Linked DNA regions of Homo sapiens. The protein of the gene in region 2 purifies or fractionates together with the protein of the main gene of each other region. This does not show direct contact. Each region holds a gene or a part of one and is shown on either strand. Other genes may lie near its edges.

Region 1 (4,155 bases), on a different chromosome or scaffold from region 2:
TTGGGCTACATAGAAATAGATGAAATTTGTCATTTTTAGATTTGTATTCTTGTCAGTCTATTGCCTGGTACAGGTATCCTTTAAAAAAAGAGTAGTCTCTTTGGGGACTTGGGAAGAAAGGGTGGGAAGTTGGGGAGGGACAGGACTACAAACTGGATTCAGTGTATACTGCTTGGGTGATGGGTGCAACAAAATTTCACAAATCACCACTAAAGAACTTACTCATGTAACCAACTACCACCTGGTCCCTAAAACCCTATAGAAATAAAAAATTTTAAAAAAATTGGTAGTCTCCACAAGTCTGGATGAGTTATTCTACATTTCCCTTTTAATGTCTTGTCCTTAGCTAGTTATAAAGTTAGCAGAGTTCTCAACCTGAGTACTAGTGACATTTGGGGTCAAAAATGTTTTTGTTGAGGGTATTATAATGTGTATTGTAGGATGTTCAGCAGCATCCCCGGCCTCTACCTGCCAGATGCCAGTAGCACCCTTCCAGGTTACAGCAACCAAAAATGTCTCCAGGCATTGTCAAATGTCCCCTGGGAGGCAAAATCGTCCCCATTTGAGAACCACAGAGTTAAAGTAAGATTACAAAAATGAAAACCCAACTCACAGTTAGGAAGAAAAAGTTAACGGTTGTTTTTACAACGGTGGTAATGTGGTATGCAATTCAAAATTATGTCCACTGGCTAACCTCTACATAGTTTTATTCTAAGGCGAATCGGGTATCAAAATCTTCAAAGAAAAAATGATTCAGCAACTAATAGAGTCTGAAAAAAAAAGAGTATTAGGGGAAGCCCCAAATATTAATTTAATTTAAAGGGAAATTCTTCTGTCTTCTGGTCATAATACATGCTTTTTAATAAATAATTTGTGATACTAGAAAGAACAAAACCAATTGGGACACACAGCACCTTGCCCTTGTCAGCTGAGATGGCGTAGCAGACAACTGCAGAACAAACTTCAATCACAAAGATAATTTTTTGAAATAGATGAGTTCAAGTTACCAGAATAGAGAACTAGCACTAACCCATCTAATAGGTTACAAGCATCTTTTCAGTTTTACGGGATTAAGTGATTGATAAAATTTTTAAATTATGGCAAGCCTGAAAAAAATTAAATACTTGCCTCTCTTGCAGGTTGCTATTTTGGAAGCAATAAAGACTCAGCTCATATGAAAGTGTATTGCCCATTCTTCTGCCAATTCACGTTTGGTTGTAGAATTTTCTTCTCTTCCAGCCCCCCTCCACCTCCCCTCATGACATCCCATTAGCATCCCAAGACAAAGGCAGAACTACAGGGGAGTGGCGCTGGGACCCCTGTGGGTCTTTTCTCAGGCAATGAGAGAATCAGATTCTCCACCTGGAACCCATAAAGGAAGGAACGCCATAACACACAGCTTTTAAAACACATGTTTACATACACTTACAGGAGGACAGGTTACAATATATTCTAGTCCTCTTTCTCTCACTTCAAATTCCATCAGTGTTGTAAATCGGCTCATCTTATGCCCCTTTCTTTCTCTTTCCTCTAGACCAGTGGCTCTCAAAGTGTGATGTGATCAGCATCCCCGGGGAACATGTTAGAAATGCAAATCTTCAGCCCCCACTCCAGACTTAGGGAATCCCCTAAAGTCCAAGCACTCCTTATTTAGGCCAGTGTTCTTTCTAGAACCACAAACATTGTTTCTTACAGAAAGCAAAACTGCAATTCTCATTTCATCCTCAAGCCTGCTGCAAGGTAGTAATATATTAGCCCCACGTGAGCGATGAGGAAACCGGCTCTGGGGTTAAGCGTCGGCTCAAGGTCTCAAAGCTAGTCACTGCAGGTGGAAGATTAAAGTGTTTGCACTTCTTTTCACTACTGAAACAAAGCTATGGCACTTTATTAACAACATCTGGATTTTTTGCTGGTTGGCTGGTTGGTTTTTGTTTTTGCTCTTTCAGCTTTCGTCAATTCGGAAAAATATAAAACAGAGTGGGTGAGAGTAGTGTGCCATATGCCTCGGGTCGTCCCGAGTCGGAATTTAAGGGCAGGACTCTAGAAAGGTGTTTTTCCAGTAAAGACCGTTTCGTTCTGCTGCGGTCCTTCCTGTCTTTGTCCCCGGGACAGCACGCAGCAGATAGAAGCGGCCAGAGCTGCATGGCGGGGCCGCGGGCATCCCCGACGCGACAGGTTGTCCGCGGGAAGACAGCCAGTCCGCGAGGCCCCGGCGCGCCGCGGCTCCGGGCCGGGGGTACTGGTTTACAGGGCAAATTGGCACACCCCAAAGCCCAGGGGACACCCGGGCCTACGCCGCAGCCCGGAAAGGAGGGGGTGAGTGGTGAACCCGAAACCGCCGAGGGCCGCGCGGCCAGAAACCACACGGAGCGCTAGGGTCGCAGTGAAGATCCGGGAGGAGGGTGCAGGCTGGAGGGGAGAGAGCGGGCGAGAACCCACGAAATGGAAATGAGGCGGAGAGAGCGGGTCGGCACTCACTGTGAGGGTCGCTCTTCTCCCGGACCCCGTCAACTCGGCCGTCGGGGTGGATGCGCAGGAAGAAGCCCCCGTTTTTGCAGTACAGCCGCTTGGGGTCCTTGAAGTGGCCGGGCGGGAAGGCGCCGCTGCCGCCATCCTCGGGCAAGGCGGGCAGCGTGGTGATGCTCCCGGCTGCCATGGTCCCTGCGGGGCCCGGCCGGGATCCCCGAGCCGCTGGAGCCGCGCGGGGAGCCGCCGTCCCCCGGCCCCGGCCCCGGCCTCCGACCCGCTCCGGGGCACGGCCCCGGCCCCGGCCCCCCAGCCTCCCGCCCGGCAGCGCGCGGCCGCGCCCGCGGTCCCCCAGCCTCGAGCCGCTCGGCCGCTCTTCTGTCCGCCGGCCCCTGGTGCGCGGCGAGCCGGCGGCCCGGGACCTGGGGTTCACGGATGGGTGTCTCCGCGGACGCCGCCTGGGGAGAGCCGCCTCCCAAGCTGCAGCGCCCGGGATCCCGTTGCAACCGCGGGCACCGCGTCCGCTAATCTGGCACCCGCCGGGCCGCGGCGTCACATCTTCTACATCTCCACCCCCCACACCCACCAGCCTCCCGCGCCCCCAGTTCTCCTCCCTCCTGCGCGCCGCCCCCTACTCGCTCGGGTTTTCTGGGGCCGGCCTCTGAGTTCGGCGGTTCGGCCACAACACGCAAGCGCGCGACATCAGTCCGGCGGGGAGCCCGGCCTCAGTCGGGGGCGGGGGAGAGGCGAGGGGCGGGGGGCGCGCGTCGGAGGCCGCGGCAGGGCTTTGGCATTCCCTGGGCTCCACCGCCCCTTATCCCCCAAAAGTCACCCCCGCCCAACCCCCGCACCACCCAAACCACGTTTAGGCTTTCTCCACACTGCGGGGCTTTTGCTGCGCAACCAGCCGTGACTCAACTTTTAAAAGTTTAAACTCAACTTTCTCCCCCATTTTTTCCCCGCTAGCGTTTCAAAACGGAGAAGCCGTTTCCACCCCAAAGTAGAGAAGTTGCAATCCAAGGAAGAGTCTGTGTCAGAGCAGGCTTTGAAAATCTCTAAATCACCAAAAGACGAGGGGTACAAGTGGGGCATAAACTTTAAAATTAAAGGACAGAGGCTGAAGTCGTCTACCAACAAAAGGAGAGAAAGAGGCCAGAGAAGGGGAGCAGATTGGGTTGCTAAAACGAAAAGGTTTCCTTTACTGACCTATCTTGAATTAGACGACGCAGAAAGATGAGGATGGGGATAAGGATAAATCCTTATCGCGATCGAAGCGCATTAATGTCTTAACTCGGACCTGGCATTTGCCCTAGCTAAATTGTTATGCATTTCTTGGAGAGAGAGTTATTTTCTGTAAATCCCAAATGTAAAATTGAAGTTAATTGCATTTTGGTAATTTTCAGTAGGATATAGCAGGTGCCACAGATGACTAGGAAAATATCTATTCAGAAAACTTGCATGTATTGAGTACCTACTGTGTGCAACACATAATGTTGAGTGTGTGGGAGATGCCAAATCTGATGCCAGCGTCTCACACACTGAGGGAGATAAGATGGGTAGCATGAGTAACACAAATAGCAGTAGAAAGTAGGCCATAGAAGAGTAAGACTAAGTGCTGTGACATTTCAGACATCGGATAACTCAGCGTGGGGAGGCAGGAGATTTGGGGAAGCTTCTAGAAGGAGTTGC
Region 2 (3,500 bases):
CTATTCTTGAATTGTGAGATTGTGGAAATTGGAATCCAGTCTTATCATCATCTCTAAGTGATACCAGATAACTTGGCTTTGCAAGCTCCCATGCAGGATTCTTTTGTCTGTGTGACATAAGTATTAAAATGTGTCCTGCCTTATAAAGAATGTGAATTCCATATTCTCACTTGGTATCAGTGAGAAATATTCCCATATTTCTATTTGCAACATAGAAGATAATGCATCATGTCCTTCTGGGGCATGGCAAGTTCTAAATGAATTCCTGGCAGAGCAATGGATTCTGTGATTGTCTATGTGGTGTAGTTGTTGCTAAGAGGATGCTATTGTAATCTTTTCTACCTATACTTCTTCATTGGCTCAGAATGAAGCAAGGCATGTGCTGCTTTCTTATATGTCATTTATGCCATAAATCCCATTGTTAGAAGGTAATGCTTCTAACGGATTCCATTCATGCTTTTGAGATAAATGGCATTGACTTTCATATTGATCACATGGAAAGCTGTTACCTGATTCCTTTCCTGAGATCACTTCCAGCCTAATGTGCATTTGGCTGGAATATGGTTGTCTCAGAATAACATCATGCACTCGGGCTTTTATACTTCTGCCTTTAGGGGACTGTGGCAGCATGGCATGGGTCAAGAAGTACTTCTCCTTCATCTTCCTTTGATGTCGGTAACTCATCCTTTCTGCACTGCGGGAGTTGTTAATGCTTTTGTGTCCTCCAGTTCACATGCTGATTGCTAAGAAGAAAATGAGCATGAGTGAACCCAAAGCTGCTGAAACATTCTGCGTTTATGCAACTTCCTTGCCCTCTATACAAGGAAGATGGTTTCATTGTCTTGTCTAGAGAATAAAGTCTTTTTTAAAAATAAAATCGGTGTATCCCTGACCAAGCGTCCATTAACACTTTGACAATTGCTCAAACTGCATGGTCACAGCAGCCTCAGCTCATACCAGCCATCCAATGCAAGGAAGGACAACACCAAGCCCAGAGGACAGTTCCTGGACTGATTTCTTCAACCCAATCTCACACCCCATGGGACGAGGTCATCAAGCAGGAAGAAGGATGGGTAATAGCCTCTGAGATTTTTATATATTATGTTTTTTGAAATCCACTGAGTGACTGCTGACTATTTTTCTAGAAATATGCCCTTGGTTTTAGACCAAACTACTTTCCTGAAGGACCTGAGGTTCTTCAAAAATTAGTTTTCTTGGTAGGAGTGATACTCATATTCACCTGAATATGAAGTTCTGAGCTGAAAGTAAGGAATTTAGCAGGAGGGTTGGCAAAAGAAAAAACTTATTGTCAAAATATATCTGTGTGAGGCAGTAAGTAATAGATATGAAATGAATGTTGCCAACAATAAACGCTAAAGAAATTCTGAGAACCCCTCCCTGCCCACCACAGCATCACAGAAAGGTGAATTGGACTTGGTTTATGAAAAATAAAAAAACCCTGGATAGTCAGAGAAAGGAAGTGGGTGGTGGGGGTTGGTGGGGGGGGCAGTTTTCCTAAGAAGGAGACTCCTGTAAGGAGAAACGTGAAGGAAGAAAAGCCAAGGAATGAATATGTCAGTGAGTGGATCCATTTTTCACAAGGGAAGATGTGTTTGAATGGCTAGGCAGGGGCCATTATGTTGAGTGACTGAAGTACCACAGGCAGACCCAGCACACATGAGTTTGCACATGGCAGCTGGAGCTCTGAGGACACCCATGGGGGAAAACCAAGCCAGGCAAAGATCTTCAGAATCAATATTAATTCTATGTACTGATGAAGAGAAAGAGATTCCATTAAATTAATGAACATGTCAAGGACAATACAATTGGCTTCAACTACACAATGGTATGATGACTCTTGAAGGACTCTACTTATAAGAGGGAAGATGAACAAGAGTCTAGAGCCCATCATCAAGTGGGACTTTTTCTGGGAGAATGTCCATTTGTGGTTTTGATTCAGGTTAGCACTTGCTCTTGTTTGAAATCTGGGATAACAGGGTCACCACATTTTTGTCCTACAAAGATCTTTAATATTTTAGTGTTGAATATTTAGTGTTGAATCTTGAATATTTAGTGTTGAAAGGCTGCAGTGCAGACCTGGGTACCCAGTATTCTGGTGCTTCACTGGGACTGATTAAATCTCCCCCAGAGGCAGTGATGTGGATAGACTTTGACTGAATTGACAGCCAGAAATATCGATGGGGTTTATGAATTGTTTGGCCTCTGTTTCACTCAAGACTTCTTATTTCAGCAGAGTAGATCTGTGATAACTGTTAAAAACAACATTTACAAGTATTTCAGTGAAATTTCTGCACTACTCAACATTGTACATGTTAAATTTTAAAGACCGCTTATACTTGGGTTTTTGGGAAGAATAATTCAATGACGTCCACTGCTTCTTATTTCTTGCCCCTGTATACTTTCTGTAACTCCACCTAGGTGGTCTTGGATGACGATTCTGTTTATTTGCATATTCACTTTGTGAAGAAAAAAAGACTAAAGGGGGGAAGAGGGCTATTTTTAAAAGTCCCTTTGGTTGGTAAGGGGGAGGGGATAAAATGGTGCCTGAGCCAGCACACTTTGTCTTTTCTCCATGTGTCAGATTGCATGTTTCTATAAAAAAGGCAATGTTTCTGTCTCTCTGCAAGATTTGGGTGTTCCATCATGCACTCATGTGGAGTCCTTCCAGACTCAGCAAAAACAAACACACAGCATAGCTTTCATATAACTCGGCCCTTCAAGGAAAGCCAGTTACTTGTTGTGGTGCTCTTTGATGAAACAATAATCTATCTCAGTTCGGGAGATATAGTCAGTATGTGCTTTCTTTCCTCTTGGCCAGATGTGAATATTTAAAAAAATCAGCTGTAGACCATAAGCCACCTTCAGGTAGTGGTTTGGGAAATCAAGCAATAACACTAATATTGATTCCTTCAGATATGGACTCCAGTCATAGTATAACGCTTCAGCCTACTGCAAATCCAAACACAGGTTTGGTGGAAGATTTGGACAGGACAGGACCTCTTTCAATGACAACGCGTAAGAATAACGATGCTCAGCCACTTTATTGACTTGTATTCCTGCTTCATCTCTTACTCGCTATTGGCCAAGATGCAGAGCTTTGGTGGTGGAATGGTGCTATGTGGCTTACTTCAGCCCAGAGTGTGAAACTGTCTTCATTGTCTGTATTTCTTGTGGAGGTCTCTCAACCTGATTTTCCCTTCATTTCTTTGTGCCTTCCAGATTTAATGACTTTGTGTTTTAAGAAAAAGTAGGACTCTATTCAACTCCATTTTCATTCTCTAAGTAGTTATGTCAGTGAAACACATGCCCACTTCCAGGATAGTGATTTCTCTATGTTTTAACTGACCATTTCCTTTCAATGTCCATCTTTCCTCCAGCCAGTGCAGAAGAGGGGTAGGATTGCTTGCATGGTTGTAAAAAGACATTTTTGGGGCCAGATAATCCTAGAGATCACATCAGTTCTCAGAGGAGAGGCAAGG
Region 3 (2,715 bases), on a different chromosome or scaffold from region 2:
GGGAGGCTGGGCCCATCCACCACCTGGTGTCAGCCTTCATGCTGGCTGAGAACATTTCCCACGGGCTCCTTCTGCGCAAGGTCAGGATCTGCACCCCTAGCCTTCCCTCCCAATTGTTCACCTTCCTCTGAACCATTCGGGCCCCTTCAGCAACCGATCCTCCTCCCACCCAGCCCTCAGATTGGATTCTGCCTTCCCAATGTAACTACCCTTCCCCACCCCAGCCTTCAGCCTGGGGCCCCAACTTGGATTTTGACTAATTCACCCTTTGCACATCAGGCCAAGCCTGGATTCCCCTCCCCCTGCCCTCTGCTGTGGCCTGGACCCCCAGAACCACTGTGCCCTGCCCAGCCTCGGGGCCACCTGACAGGCCCTCCCTCCCTGTTGCCTGCCCAGGCCCCCGTCCTGCAGTACCTGTACTACCTGGCCCAGATCGGCATCGCCATGTCTCCGCTCAGCAACAACAGCCTCTTCCTCAGCTATCACCGGAATCCGCTACCGGAGTACCTGTCCCGCGGCCTCATGGTCTCCCTGTCCACTGATGATCCCTTGCAGTTCCACTTCACCAAGGTCAGAGCCCAGCAGGCAGCCAGGCGGGCGGGCGTCCCAGGACGCTGGGGTCTCCCGGGTTGGGTGGGGGGCGGTGGGGGGGGCGGTCTCTCGGGTTGGTGCTGCCCCCTGCTGGTAGAGCATAGCTGGCCAATTGACAAGTCTTATGGAGTTGAGGGGTTGGGGGGTTGGGGGGATGGGGGGGCGGGGGTGGGGAGAGTGAGTGAGGAGGCTGGGGAAGGGAGGCAGGGGCAGCTGGCCAGGGCGCACTCGTCTGAGGGAACCTGGCCCGTGCAGGAGCCGCTGATGGAGGAGTACAGCATCGCCACCCAGGTGTGGAAGCTCAGCTCCTGCGATATGTGTGAGCTGGCCCGCAACAGCGTGCTCATGAGCGGCTTCTCGCACAAGGTACTACAGCGCCTGCCTGGACCTTGGCATGGCATCACTCCTCCCCTCCTCTGCATTTGGGGTCCTGACCTGTCCCTGGGATGGCTTGGGGTGGGGCATGACCCCTCAGCACTGGCTGCAGCCCTGCCCATTACCCCCGCTCCTTGCAGGTAAAGAGCCACTGGCTGGGACCCAACTATACCAAGGAAGGCCCTGAGGGGAATGACATCCGCCGGACCAATGTGCCAGACATCCGCGTGGGCTACCGCTACGAGACCCTGTGCCAGGAGCTGGCGCTCATCACGCAGGCAGTCCAGAGTGAGATGCTGGAGACCATTCCAGAGGAGGCGGGTATCACCATGAGCCCAGGGCCTCAATGAGCCTGGTCCATGAAGTGCCCACCACATCGCAGCACTTTTACCACGTTTTGTCCTCAGACCCCGCCCATGCTGTGTGGTCTCTGCATGTCTCCATTCTTCTCTGTCTCTGTCTTGCATGTCTCCTACCATGTCACTGTCCCTGGGCCACCCAGTGAAAGCAAAGCCTGGGAATCTGCTCATTGTTGTTTGGGCTCAGGTATTGAGCCTGATGGCCCAGGTATTGAGGGCCTCCCCTGCTGGTGGCCCTGTCCTGGGATCCTCAGAAGCCTGACTGTCCTATGGGCTTCTCCAGTGTCCACAGGGGCTTGGGATGGTTGTGGGGGGCTGGCCCCTCTAGCCTTTCCGGTCCTTCCTGGGCAAATCTAAGCCTTGGCCAGGGCCGAAGTTTAGGCCCCTGTCTTGTTCATGTAGCCGAGGGGCAGGCGGGGGACCTCTACACCTCTGCTGTGGGCACGGGGCTGCTGAGGGTCTGTGGAACTCCAGCAGCTCTGCACTGGGTAGAGCTGGGCCTAGAGCTCAGTCACAGGCCTGGGCTTCCTGGCCTGAGTGGGTAGACGCAGGCGGCAGAGGTGCTGGACCACATCTCCGCCAAGTCACTGCCCAGCAGCCTTCTCCGTCCTGTCCCCAGCCCACGTGCTCCTTGGGTGTCAGCTTCCTGTGCCTCTGTGGGAGAGGGCAGCTGCCTTGTGTTATGTCTGGGGCCACAGTTGCTGCAAAGTCCTGGATCTGCCACTCAACCCCGGGAGTGGTGTTCCCAGTGTGGCTCCCAGAGCTTTGACCAGATTGTGATCCCAGCTGGCCCCTATGTTGTGTTCTGGACTGAGGCCTTTGCTGTGAACTGCAGTGTTTCATACGAACCATCTTTCCTAGTGCATGAGAAATAAAGATTATTTAAGTAATGAGGCAGGTGGGGTTTCTGTTGGGAGAGGGAACGCCGTGGTGGGAGGTGGCTGTGGATGGAGGCACCGTGCATTCTGAGGGGAGGGACTAGGCTTGGGTGATGTGTATGTTGTGCATGTGGAAACTGACAAAAGAAGCTGTGGGAGAGAGGAGATGCCCATCCAACCCTCATCCAGCCTGTTCCCTGTGAGGGGAACACCTAGCCCCGGGTCTGTGACACATCCCTGTCACACCAGCTTGGGGGCTGGTGTCTGTTTCCCACCTTGTACTTCCTCCCCTCTTCCAGCCTCTGAGGGGATGGCCTGGTAGATGGGAAATATGCACCTACAGACAAACCTGAGACCAGGGTCTTCTGGGGGGGTCTTGTTTAGATGGCCCTCTCCAGGCCATACTCTCAGAGATTCTGATTCAATAGGCAGAAGGTGTGGCACAGACATCTGCAAACTCTCGGGCAGATTCTATTGCAAGAGGTTGGAACAAGCCTGTGCATTCCGATTCC
Region 4 (3,500 bases), on a different chromosome or scaffold from region 2:
TGAGTTTCTTTCTTTCTTCTTTTTTTTTTCTTAAACTATAGCTGGTATTTGAATGTTGCTAGAAGCCTTTCTTCTAGTATGCCATATAAGCAGCCCTAGCTGAGTTCTATTTTTGTTAAGCTTAAAATTCTTTTTAAAGACTTTGTCAAAACTATCAGGTTTCTCACAGTCTTCTCTAGTTTCAATATGAGAATTTTATTTTATTTTATTTTTGGGACAGAGTCACTTTTGTTGTTCAGGCTGGAGTACAGTGGCATGATCTCGGCTCACTGCAACCTCTGCCTCCGGATTCAAGCAATTCTTGTGCCTCAGCCTCCCAAGTAGCTGGAATGACAGGTGTGCCCCACCATGCCCAGCTAATTTTTTGTATTTTTAGTAAAGACAGGGTTTCACCATGTCGGGCCAGGCTGGTCTCAAACTCCTAACCTCAGGTGACCCGCCTGCCTTGGCCTCCCAAAGTGCTGGAATTACAGGTGTGAGCCACCGTGCCTGGCCAGAATTTTACATATTATATATATGATAGAAAAAAACCCCTCAGAATAACAGAAATGTACAATTTTAGGAAACATGAAATTCTTTACCTTATTAGTATAAGAATCCTATATATTGAATTAAGAGATAAAGACATTTTTGCTTCAGCTAGAGGTATCTAATCCCCAAAGTTACCCAAGTGTATATCAGTATATTAAATATAACTTATCTATGCTGTTGACAAATAGCATAAACATATGGCTTGACTTTTCTCATTTTAATATTTGTTCATTTGATGATTTGTAAACTATATAATTATCACCCTGATTTTTTTCCCCCTATATTCTCATCCTTGCTTGCCTGTTAGGTGGGTGTGCCTGCTGCTTTGGACATGATGCTGACTGGTAGAAGCATTCGTGCAGACAGGGCAAAGAAAATGGGACTGGTTGACCAACTGGTGGAACCCCTGGGTAAGTGTTAGCACATCTCAGAGTCAGACCTTATAAAGTTACTTATTTTCTTAAAGAGTTAACCTCTTAGGCCAGGCACGGTGGCTCACACCTGTAATCCCAGCACTTTGGGAGGCTGAGGCGGGAAGATCACTTGAGGTCAGGAGTTTGAGACCAGCCTTGCCAACATGGCGAAACCCTGTCTCCACTAAAAATGATTAGCCGGGTGTGGTGGTGCAAACCTGTAGTTCCAGCTACTTGGGAGGCTGAGGCAGGAGGATCGCTTGAACCTGGCGGGGCTGAGGTTGCAGTGAGCCAAGATCATGCCATTGTGCTCCAGCCTGGGCAACAGAGCCAGACTCCCATCTCAAAAGAAAAAACAGTTAACCTCTTGAATATCACAGGAAGCACAGAGAGAAGCTCAAACTCTTAAGAAATGAGTCATTATTCTAAGGAAGGAAGTTTTATAAAATAGCTAATACTAAATCATTTTCAACATCACCCTGATTTTTATTTTGCTTTATAATTAGAACATTAGGAGTACAGAATTCAGTCAAGTCATTATTTTTGGTTCTTAAATTACCTGTATCATTATCCATGCATAACCTTCCTTCAGTTTCTTGTGTCTGTTTTAGTAATATAATAAATGAAACAACCAACCTGAGAATATTAACAATAATTGATATCTACTGATGGGCTACTTCCTCCCATTCAGTTTCTTTGCCTCCCTTTATCCAAAGAAGCCACTATTCTGACTTGTGTGTTCATTACCCTCTTATATTTATTGAAAATCAGCATTATTGAGATATTACTTACATAATAGTAAATGTATTAATTTTGTGTGTGTGTGTGTGTGTGTGTGTGCGCGCGCACACATGTTGGGGTCTCACTCTGTTGCTCAGACTGGAATATGGTGGTGTGAATATAGCTTGTTGCAACCTCAACTTTTTGGGCTCAAATGATCTTCCCACTTGTGCCCCCCGAGTAGCTGAGACCACAGGCATACGCTGCTACACCAGCTAATTTTTTATTTTTTGTAGAAACGAGATCTCACTCTGTTTTCCAGGCTAGTCTCAAACTCCGGGCTCAAGTAATCCTCCTCCCTCAGCCACCCAAAGTGCCGAGATTTACAGGTGTGAGCCACTGTGTCTGGTGAAATTGACCAACTTTTAATGTATAATTTGAGTTTTGAAAATGTATATAGCTGTGTAAACACTGCCACAATCCAAAAATAGCCGTGCATGGTGGCTCACACCTGTAATCATAGCATTTTGGGAGGCTGAGGTGGGAGAATTGCTTGAGGCCTGGAATTCAAGACCAGCCTGGACAACAGAGCAAGATCCTATCTCTTAAAAAAGAATTTTTTTTTTTCAATTAGCTGGGTATCATAGTGTATACCTGTAGTCCCAGCTAGTCAGGAGGCTGAGACAGGAATATTGTTTGAGCCCAGAAGTTCAAGGCTGTAGTGAGCTATGATCACACCACTGCACTCCAGCCTGAGCAACAGAGTGAGATGCCATCTTTTAAACAAAAATTTTTAAACATTTCTGGTATGTAGTTTGTTTTAATCTTCGTTCACTTAGCATAATGCTTTTGAGATGCATCCATACTGTTGCATATATCAGCAGTTTGTCCTTATTGCTGAGTGTTACTCCATTGTAGAAATGTACCATAGTTTGTTTATCCGTTCACCAAATGATGAGCATTTGAGTTGTTTCTAATTTAGGGCTATTCTGAATAAAGCTGCTATGAACATTCATCTTTAAGTCTTTATGTGGGCGTGACTGGGCGTGGTGGCTCAAGCCTCTAATCCCAGCACTTTGGGAGGCTGAGGCAGGCTGATCACCTGAGGTCAGGAATTCAACACCAGCCTGACCAACATGGCGAAACCCCATCTCTACTAAAAATACAAAAATTAGCTGGGTGTAGTGGTGTGCACCTGTGGTCCCAGCTACTTGGGAGGCTAAGGTAGGAGAATCACTTGAACCCAGGAGGTGGAGGTTGCCGTGAGCCAAGATTGTGCCACTGCACTCCAGCCTGGGTGACAGAGCGAGACTCTGTCTCAAAAAAAAAAAAAGTCTTTATGTGGACAAATGTTTCATTTCTGTTGGGTAAGTACTGAAGAGTGGATTGGCTAGTCCATATAACAGATATATATTAGCTTTTGAAAAAAAAAGTTTGGCCTGAGCAACATAGCAAGACTCTGTCTCAACAAAATAAAAAGTTTTAACTAGTTGGGTGTGGTGGCACATGCCTGTAGTCCTGGCTACTAGGGAGGCTGAGGCAGGAGGATTGCTTGAACCCAGGAGTTTGAAGTCACATGGAGCTATGATCAGGCCACTGCACTCCAGCCTGGGTGAGAGAGGGAGACCTTATCTCTGGGAAGAAAAAAAAAAAATTTAGAGATGAGACTTTGAGTCTTGCTCTGTCACCCAGGCTGGCCTCAGACTCCTGGGCTCAAGCAGTCTTCCTGCCTCAGCCTCCCAAGAAGCCGGGATTACGAGGCATATGCCACTAGTATTTGCTAGGTATGTGTTTGCTTTTCTGTCAGACTGTTTTCCCAAAGTGGTTATACTCTTT

The links. Proteins that work in one complex are often made in the same cells at the same time.
Region 1: the proteins of CD44 (region 2) and FGF2 purify together in Homo sapiens (co-immunoprecipitation; 3 studies listed by BioGRID and IntAct, with this or other methods). This does not show direct contact.
Region 3: the proteins of CD44 (region 2) and AMPD2 purify together in Homo sapiens (co-immunoprecipitation; 3 studies listed by BioGRID and IntAct, with this or other methods). This does not show direct contact.
Region 4: the proteins of CD44 (region 2) and HADHA purify together in Homo sapiens (co-immunoprecipitation; 3 studies listed by BioGRID and IntAct, with this or other methods). This does not show direct contact.

The regions. Positions count from the first base shown.
Region 1 is NC_000004.12:122,825,676-122,829,830, reverse strand, and holds the start of FGF2 (fibroblast growth factor 2 isoform 18 kDa), read right to left. Parts: upstream 2,657-4,155; coding exon 2,479-2,656; intron 1-2,478. UniProt on the Homo sapiens protein: Acts as a ligand for FGFR1, FGFR2, FGFR3 and FGFR4. Also acts as an integrin ligand which is required for FGF2 signaling. Binds to integrin ITGAV:ITGB3.
Region 2 is NC_000011.10:35,205,171-35,208,670, forward strand, and holds part of CD44 (CD44 antigen isoform 1 precursor), read left to right. Parts: intron 1-614; coding exon of another isoform or gene 615-670; exon of another isoform or gene 671-877; intron 878-941; coding exon 942-1,073; intron 1,074-2,934; coding exon 2,935-3,036; intron 3,037-3,500. UniProt on the Homo sapiens protein: Cell-surface receptor that plays a role in cell-cell interactions, cell adhesion and migration, helping them to sense and respond to changes in the tissue microenvironment.
Region 3 is NC_000001.11:109,629,837-109,632,551, forward strand, and holds the end of AMPD2 (AMP deaminase 2), read left to right. Parts: coding exon 1-80; intron 81-396; coding exon 397-570; intron 571-846; coding exon 847-957; intron 958-1,106; coding exon 1,107-1,316; 3' UTR 1,317-2,215; downstream 2,216-2,715. UniProt on the Homo sapiens protein: AMP deaminase plays a critical role in energy metabolism. Catalyzes the deamination of AMP to IMP and plays an important role in the purine nucleotide cycle.
Region 4 is NC_000002.12:26,227,633-26,231,132, reverse strand, and holds part of HADHA (trifunctional enzyme subunit alpha, mitochondrial precursor), read left to right. Parts: intron 1-838; coding exon 839-941; intron 942-3,500. UniProt on the Homo sapiens protein: Mitochondrial trifunctional enzyme catalyzes the last three of the four reactions of the mitochondrial beta-oxidation pathway.